Linked DNA regions of Homo sapiens. The protein of the gene in region 1 interacts with the protein of each later gene in a pairwise test. Each region holds a gene or a part of one and is shown in the gene's direction. Other genes may lie near its edges. The genes, in order: KLHL8 and PPM1F.

The links.
Region 2: the proteins of KLHL8 (region 1) and PPM1F interact in a two-hybrid assay, tested with the Homo sapiens proteins (one large-scale study listed by BioGRID).

The regions. Positions count from the first base shown.
Region 1 is NC_000004.12:87,185,935-87,189,752, reverse strand, and holds part of KLHL8 (kelch-like protein 8), read left to right. Parts: intron 1-3,818. UniProt on the Homo sapiens protein: Substrate-specific adapter of a BCR (BTB-CUL3-RBX1) E3 ubiquitin ligase complex required for The BCR(KLHL8) ubiquitin ligase complex mediates ubiquitination and degradation of RAPSN.
Region 2 is NC_000022.11:21,946,159-21,949,976, reverse strand, and holds part of PPM1F (protein phosphatase 1F), read left to right. Parts: intron 1-3,818. UniProt on the Homo sapiens protein: Dephosphorylates and concomitantly deactivates CaM-kinase II activated upon autophosphorylation, and CaM-kinases IV and I activated upon phosphorylation by CaM-kinase kinase. Promotes apoptosis.

The DNA.
Region 1 (3,818 bases):
GCCCGGCCTTTACTAAACTTTTTTAAGTGAAGTGGAGATAGTTTACAAAATAAATGTTAACTCTTTTTTTTTTCAATAGCAACAAAAGCACAGATTTATTGAAATGAAAGTACACTCCACAGAGTGGGAGCGGGCTCGAGCAAGTGGCACTCGAGCCATGATGAAGTCCTAACTAGTGGAGTTAGGAATGCTTTGTATGTTGATAGTCAAGTGCTTTACTAATCCAAAAGCCTTATTTTCATTGTATTTCCATTCATATTGGCTAATCTCTGGAAAATTACTCAAAGTTTTTATTAATAGTTGGTATTTCAAGCTTTTTAAACAAAAGTCTAAGGAATCATTTAATGAATGTTGATATTCTACATATTTTAATACTGAAGTGTGACATGATTTTTCCCTGAGTACTGTTAAGTTTAGCCTGAAGCTCCCACCTTATGTATTTTAAACTTGGCCTAAAAGTTTCTCTGTACACAGTAAACTGTAACCTAACTGGTTGTGTAAACAGACTGCAACCTACTCTTGTGCTAATCACTGAGGTTCAGCCAATTAAAGGCAACCAGTTGTTCAACCTGTGTTCAAGTAAGGCTGACCCTGAGCTGTAACTGACCCGTCTGTTTCTGTACCTCACTTCCGTTTTCTGTGTGTCACCTTCCTTTTTCTGTCCGTAAATAATTTTCGACTATGCACCAGCACCAGTGTCTTTGAACCTATTCTTGTTCCAGGACTGCCCAATTCTTGAATCCGTCTTTGCTCAGTTAAACTCCGTTAAATTTAATTGTCTAAGGTTTTTCTTTCGTAATACTATCTTGAATTAGTCACACGTTCACTGATCTAACAAAGAAAGAATGTAAATTAGAAAATTAAGTAGTATCAGGGACATATAGTATTTATATAATTCTAAATACACGGTAATGTCTAATATTATGTAGCTTGTGTGTTTTTCATCCAATTTTAAACATCAGGTCTTTAGACTTTGATTCCTTTCATTTTCAAATTTCTAATGAAATGATTTTGGTAATTGGTAATTATTTTTTTGTACCAGAGAAAGAAAATGTACAAATAAACTTTCAGGAATGTAATTAACTATATAACATCAAAGGAGAATCAGTGCATTAAAAAGCCAAATTTTTGGCTGTTCCTATTTATACATGTGGCTTAAAGATCTTTATAAAATAAAGATGGATATTTATTCTAAAAGGGTACATAGGGGTGTATGTGTTAAATAGCCACATTTTAGTTTGTTTGAATCAAGACTCAAATGGAATTGTAAAGGGACAGAATCTTATTAAAAACAACATGAAAATGACTTGCCGGCCATTGATTTGTACAGCTTGGATGGCAAGTGTTAAAATAATGGTTATCTAGAAATTGTAGAACCCTATTTTATGATACTATTATGTAAGAGAGTGTTGGCAAGTTATTTAATGGAGCAGGTTTAAGTCATGTGAGACTTACAAATATTTGCATAGAAACTGAATCCCAGTGGTGGCATGTGGAAATAATTTTTTAAAGGATATGCTTAGGCTATTTAAAAGTTATTTAGTATCAGATTTCAGATCCCATTTTAGAGCTGACGTGAATTTGAAAACATGCCAAGCTTTATGTTATAGTCTACATTACAACTTTAGTCTCAATGGAATCTAAATACTGCCTTGTGAGTTCTGTGAAAAAATTTAATATAGCATAACAGACAGAAATGATTGTCTTGTACTTTCTGAAATAAGTGATACTGCTTCTTCCTCCACATTAGTGAAAAAAGACTGAGGAAGGGGCTTTTATAAGCAAAACCATTTATACATTTGAACACTCTAGGAGTTGTCATTTTAAAATTAGTTCTCAAATAATGAGATACAACTGTTTATTATATAATCAAAACACTACATGAAAACAGGAAAACTGTTAAAATAGTACTATAACTGTTACTTGTATTTGATTATTATAAACTCCTGGGAAAATGGGATAAATACTGTATTAAAAAGAAGATATCTTCCCACTCAGTACCAAAAACTTCCAGATGTAAGTAAAAATTTAAGTGTAAAACATAAAACCATAAAAGTAGTATAAAAAATACGTGAAGTAAATATAGAATATTAGAATGATTCCCATTTCTAGCAGGTACCTAAAACAATAAATAAAAAGACTTCATTTAATTACATAAAAATCCATAGGGTTTTTATATAAGAGAATAAAATTTGAAAGCAAACTAAAAGAGAAGTTTGAAATATATATGACAAATGCCTAATACTCTGATTATATGATGAGTACTTATAAATAAAAAATTTGTAGTTCATAGAAGAAATACAAATAGCTCAAAATTTATAAATGATTCAATCTTAAGAGCAAAAAAGAAAAAAAAAGATGAGATCTTTTTATTCATCAAATTGGCAACTATGGCCGGGCACAATGGCTCACACCTATAATCTTAGCACTTTTGGAGGCCGAGGCGGGAGGATTGCATGAGCTTAGGAGTTTGAGATCAACCTGGGCAGCATAGACTTTGTACAACAACAACAACAATAACAACACTCAAGATATGGTGCAAATACTGTAAGAAGCTCAGAAATGGACAGTTTGACATTATGTATTCACATATTCACATTGTATCCTTTGAAGCAGCATCTCTACTTACAATAATTTATCTGTTGGAATAATAGAGAATGTGAATAACGATTTAGTTACAAAGAAGTTCACTAGTGTGCTATTTGTAATAGCATACTGTTGGAAGCTATCTGATTTTTCAATAATTAAGGTGATGAGATTGCAGTGTTTTTTTTTTACTGCTTTTATGTGAGCTATATCATTTCAAGATAATGTAAATAGAAAATAAAAAAAAACCTCAGTTGAGCTCATAGTAAATACTACTAAATATTTACTCTCTGCTCCAGTTTTCTGATTGATAAATTGTGGATAATAATAGTACTTACTCATAGGGATGTTGGGACAACTGAGTTAGTATATGAAAAGCACTTAGAAGGCCAGGCTCTGTGGCTCATGCCTGTAATCCTAGCACTTTGGGAGGCCAAAGTGCGTGAATCACTTGAGCCCAGGAGTTTGAGACCAGCCTGGGCAGCATGGCAAAACCCTGTCCCTACTGAAAAATACAAAAATTAGCTGGGTGTGGTGGCACATGCCTGTAGTCCTAGCTGCTGGGGAGGCTAAGTTGGGGGATTGCTCGAGCCCAGCAGGTTGAGGCTGCAATGAGCCATGATCACGTCACTGCACTCCAGCCTGGGCAACAGGGTGAGACCCTATTTCAAAAAAAAAAAAAAAAGCACTTACAATAGTGGTTGGCATGTAATGAGTGCTAACTGATGTTTGCTGGTATTAATTCACAAAATGTCCCTGAAATATAACATAGAAAATCATGGTTTGTTGTGTGTATGTTACAGATACATATATAAAAGAGGCCGAGTGTGGTGGCTCACACTGGTAATCCCAGCACTTTGGGAGGCTGAGGCAGGTGAATCAGTTGAGGCCAGGAGTTCAAGACCAACCTGGCCAACGTGGTGAAACCCTGTCTCTACTGAAAAAACAAAACCCACAAAAATTAGCCAGGCGTGGTGGTGCACGCCTGTAATCCCAACTACTTGGTAGGCTGAGGCAGGAGAATTGCTTAAACCCAGGAGGCAGAGGTTGCAGTGAGCTGAGATTGCGCCGCTGCTCTCCAGCCTGGGCAACAGAGCAAGGCCTTGTCTCAAAAAAAAAAATTTTTTTTTAATTTTAAAGTATGTGTATATATATATATGAATATGATATGTGGTTAATTTGGAATATGAAAATTACCTGACTTTAAGAAACTGGCCTACTTGAAAGTAAGT
Region 2 (3,818 bases), on another chromosome or scaffold:
CATCCCAGGAAGAGTGCTCAGAGCAGGGGCGGATGGCAGCTGGCAGCACCGTCAGCCACACCCCTGCAGCTGCCCCCCGATGAGTTTGCTTTGCCATTTCTCACCTATGTGGGACCTTAAATAGGTTCTAGGAGGGTGAGCACCCATTTGGTGTGCAGTGGGGCCCTGATCCAGGAGGAACCAGCTGCCAGTCGCATTTGGTCAGACTGGTCCAGGCAGGCGGTGCTGGGATGCAGGAGTCCAATGTCCCTCCCATGCCCACCCCGGGCTCTTGGTGATTTGCACAGGCTCATGCACACGTCCCTCTTATTCGGAGTTTTTCACTGGTGTGCCCTGCTCAGGAAAGCCCAGCACCAGGCTCCGCTGCCTCTGGTGCTCTCCCAGCTCTCCCTACTCCCTGCGGCTTGCCGCTGGCCTCCATGCCATTCCTGATGCTGTCTCTTCCAGTTGATCCCTCAAAGAACCACAGCACTGTCCCCTGCCCCTCCAGGCACTCCCAGGGCTGCCTCTGGTTTCCCTTGGTGAGGAATTTCTCCTTCCTGCCGGGTGTGCCATGGTGTACGTCAGATTCAGGAGCTTATTGGGAAAAGGAAGGAAATGATTCCTGTCCCTTTCGACATCTGGGCTCCAGGGAGAGAAAGCTGTGTCCTGGTTTCTCTCCTCACCCCTTGCCTTAGGTTGGTGATGCAGAAACAAGGGTGCTTGGTCCCCAGCAAGTAAGATGGCCCTGGGCACCCTGCCTTTGTAACAAGAGCAGGCAGTTGGCACAGGCCCTGAGAGTAAGCCAGCCTGTCCCCTCTACAGATGCAGACAGAGCTTCACACACACACATCATCACACCCCCCAGACCTTACTTAGTACACATGGCACAGACACCATTGAGGCATGTGCAGATAGTGGGCACAAGGCACAGAGAGAGCAGGCAGGTGGCCACAGTGAATCAGGGTCTGTAGTGCAGACAGGAGGAGCCACCCTCCCTGAGGGAACAGGCCGATTGTGGGGAGGGGCTCACGGCACAGGAAAGAGTACCCCAAGGTCAGGAGGCAAGAAGGAGGCACCTGCATCCCAAAAGGTCCAGCAGACGTCACCAGCAAATGGGGTGGAAGTGAAGGGTCTTGAATTCTGCCCTTGACAGTGGGGCTTTACACTGTGGGCAGGGGTTTCTCCAGGGGGGCCCTCTGTGTGCTCTAGCGGGGAGCATGCTGTCCTCTCACTTGGATCCTAATCATAAATTCACATGAGCACATTTTGTGGTGAGACAGTAGAGCCTCCAGATCACTTGGAATTGCAAGGGAGTGGGAGGAGGCCCCAGGCACTGGCAGTTGCTGGGGGCAGCTCTGCATCGTTCACATTCTCCCAGAAGCTCCAGGGGCCAGGGCAGTCCCAGGCAGAAGAGGGGCCCTTGGCCGCTTGCACTGCTTGAGGGCAGCCAAGCTTGCTGGGAAATTCACGCCATCTTCGAATGCCTTACAGCTCTGCTGGGGCATGGCTGGCAGGACGTGCCGCCTCCTCATTGACCTACTAGGGCTCCCAGCCTCTGCTCATTTCTCCAGCTCACAGTCTTCCCTTTGTCGTTTGAATGTCAGTGTCCCTCCTGCTCTCAAAGTGATTTTTCCTTTTTTGCTTTATGTTCTTTTTTTTTCTTTTTTGGTAGAGATGGGGGGTGGGGGGGGGGTGGCGATCTCACTGCCCAGGCTGGTCTTGAACTCCTGGCCTCAAGCACTCCTCCTGCCTCACCCTCCCCAAGCGCTGAGATATAGACCTGAGCCACAGCGCCTTGCCAGTTGTTTTATGTTCTTTATCCTTTTACCTGCTTGCCTTCTGTAACCTGGGTTGCATTAAATTTACTCCTACTTGTGAGTAAATGTGAACCATAGCAATAAATTTAGTCTATCCCCAGAACCTTCAGTAGCAAGCACCCCTATTCCTACGTTATTTGTATGTGTCCACTTTAAATAAATTACCTTTCAATTCTGCCTCTAAAAGAAGAGAAGGGTTTTGTGTTTTGTTAATTTACCACCCTTCACCCCTTGCATTCCAAATCCCTCACTGATCAGACATTTAACTTGGTGCTGGGACCTTTCCCTCTGCCCACCCCATTCTCTTTTGTGTTTTTTATCTTTAGGCTTCCAGAAGGCTTGTTCCAAGTTAGCAATTCCTGATAAGGACAGCCCTCTTGTGGGCTGTGAGCTCCCTGCATCTCTTACTTCCCACTCTCTTCATCCTGCACCTCAGGCCCCTGCCACAGCCGCCCTTTTAGCAAAGTTTGTAGGCAGAGTCTGTGGCTATTCTAAGACTGATGATTCTAGAAGATTCTCCTTGCCTTCTTCGTTCAGTTTTCAGAACCTGGAAGTCCTCATGAAGGTGATGGGCTGTGAAACTGTTCCCCAAATTCTCCACCCTAGAACTCGGGGTGTTCCTCAGAGTCTCATGTCCGTTTGTCACCATAAAAGAATGCAGTTTTTCTCCCTGGCTTAGTAACTGTGTAGGATTTCTTTTTTATTTTTTTCTGGATCCAATCTCATCCACTACTGCGTAGGACTCGCTGAATAAAGTTTCCCAGCCTGAGTGTTAGACAAAGCCCAAGGTGGAGTCCCCGCTGTGGGGAGGGTTTGGAGGGGTCAGGCACCCGAGAGGAAGGGGGCAGGAGAGAGAAGGGTCCATGCTGAGTGGGTGCTGGCAGGGAGGCCCAGGTGTGGGGCCTGGAGGTGAATCCCCGGGGCGACGCAAAGAACATGGAAGGGGGGGCGCTGGAGAGCTGTTTGGGTATAGGCAAGGCAGGCAGGCTGGGGAGGCGACTATGGAGATTCGGAGTTAGGAGAGAAGAGGAGCCAGAGCCACCCTGGGAGGAGGCTGTGAGGCACCATGTGCCTCTTTCCAGTGAGAGAGAAGCCGGTGAGGGAGTGAAGGCACAGGCTTTGCGATCCCTCTTTGGCCCTGTCTTCCTTCTGACACCTCAGGCGAGGGACTAACCCTCTCCAAACCTTGGGATTCTCATCTGTGAAATGGGGGCTTGTCCTGGCTCCTGGGGTGTTAGGGGCAACTCCCAGGGCTGGTCAGCTCTGGTCATCCCTAAGGACTTAGGGAGGAAGAGCCCACATGCCGCACAGTGGGGTCAGCGCCTGGAACTGTCCACAGTGCCCCTCTTCCAGCCAGGGCTTAGCAGGCCTGAGCCATTCTAGGCTCACAATTCCCTCCTCCTATTAGAGAGCATTGAATAGGCTCGATGGTGTCCCACAGCACCTCCTGTCTGTCCCAGATTAAACCTCTGCTTCTCTCCTGGCCACCCCTTGGGTGGCCCCAGCAGCCTCTGGGGATCCCTTCCTGCTCCCACTCTGGCCTATCTCCAAAACAGCCCTGGGCCGGCCTCCCGCATCTTGGCCCTTCTCTTTCCTCCCCTGAACACCACTAGAGCCCCAACAGGTGTCCCTCCTGCCATCTGGTCACCACGTCCAGGCTCACAGACCTGGTGGCTTCACTCCCTCACCTCAGAGCCCTCCTGGCTGCTCGGGACCCGTGATCAGGTTGAACCCCCTCACCTACCTCAGTGCCTGGCCTCGGCATCCCTGTCCTGCTCGTCTCTGGCCACGCTGGCCACCCTCTGCCAGGAACAGTCTTCCTCCTCTGTCACTTCTTGACAATGTCCACCCAGCTGCTGCTCCTGGCACCATCTCCTGAGACCGGATCTCTGGATGCCCACAAGTCCCCACCTGGACTCATGTCAAAACAGTGGCCAGGGTTGTCCCTCCACCCTCTAGTGGCCCTGAACCATGAGGCCATGCACCTGCCACATGGTGCTTGCAGGTGGGCACCTGCAT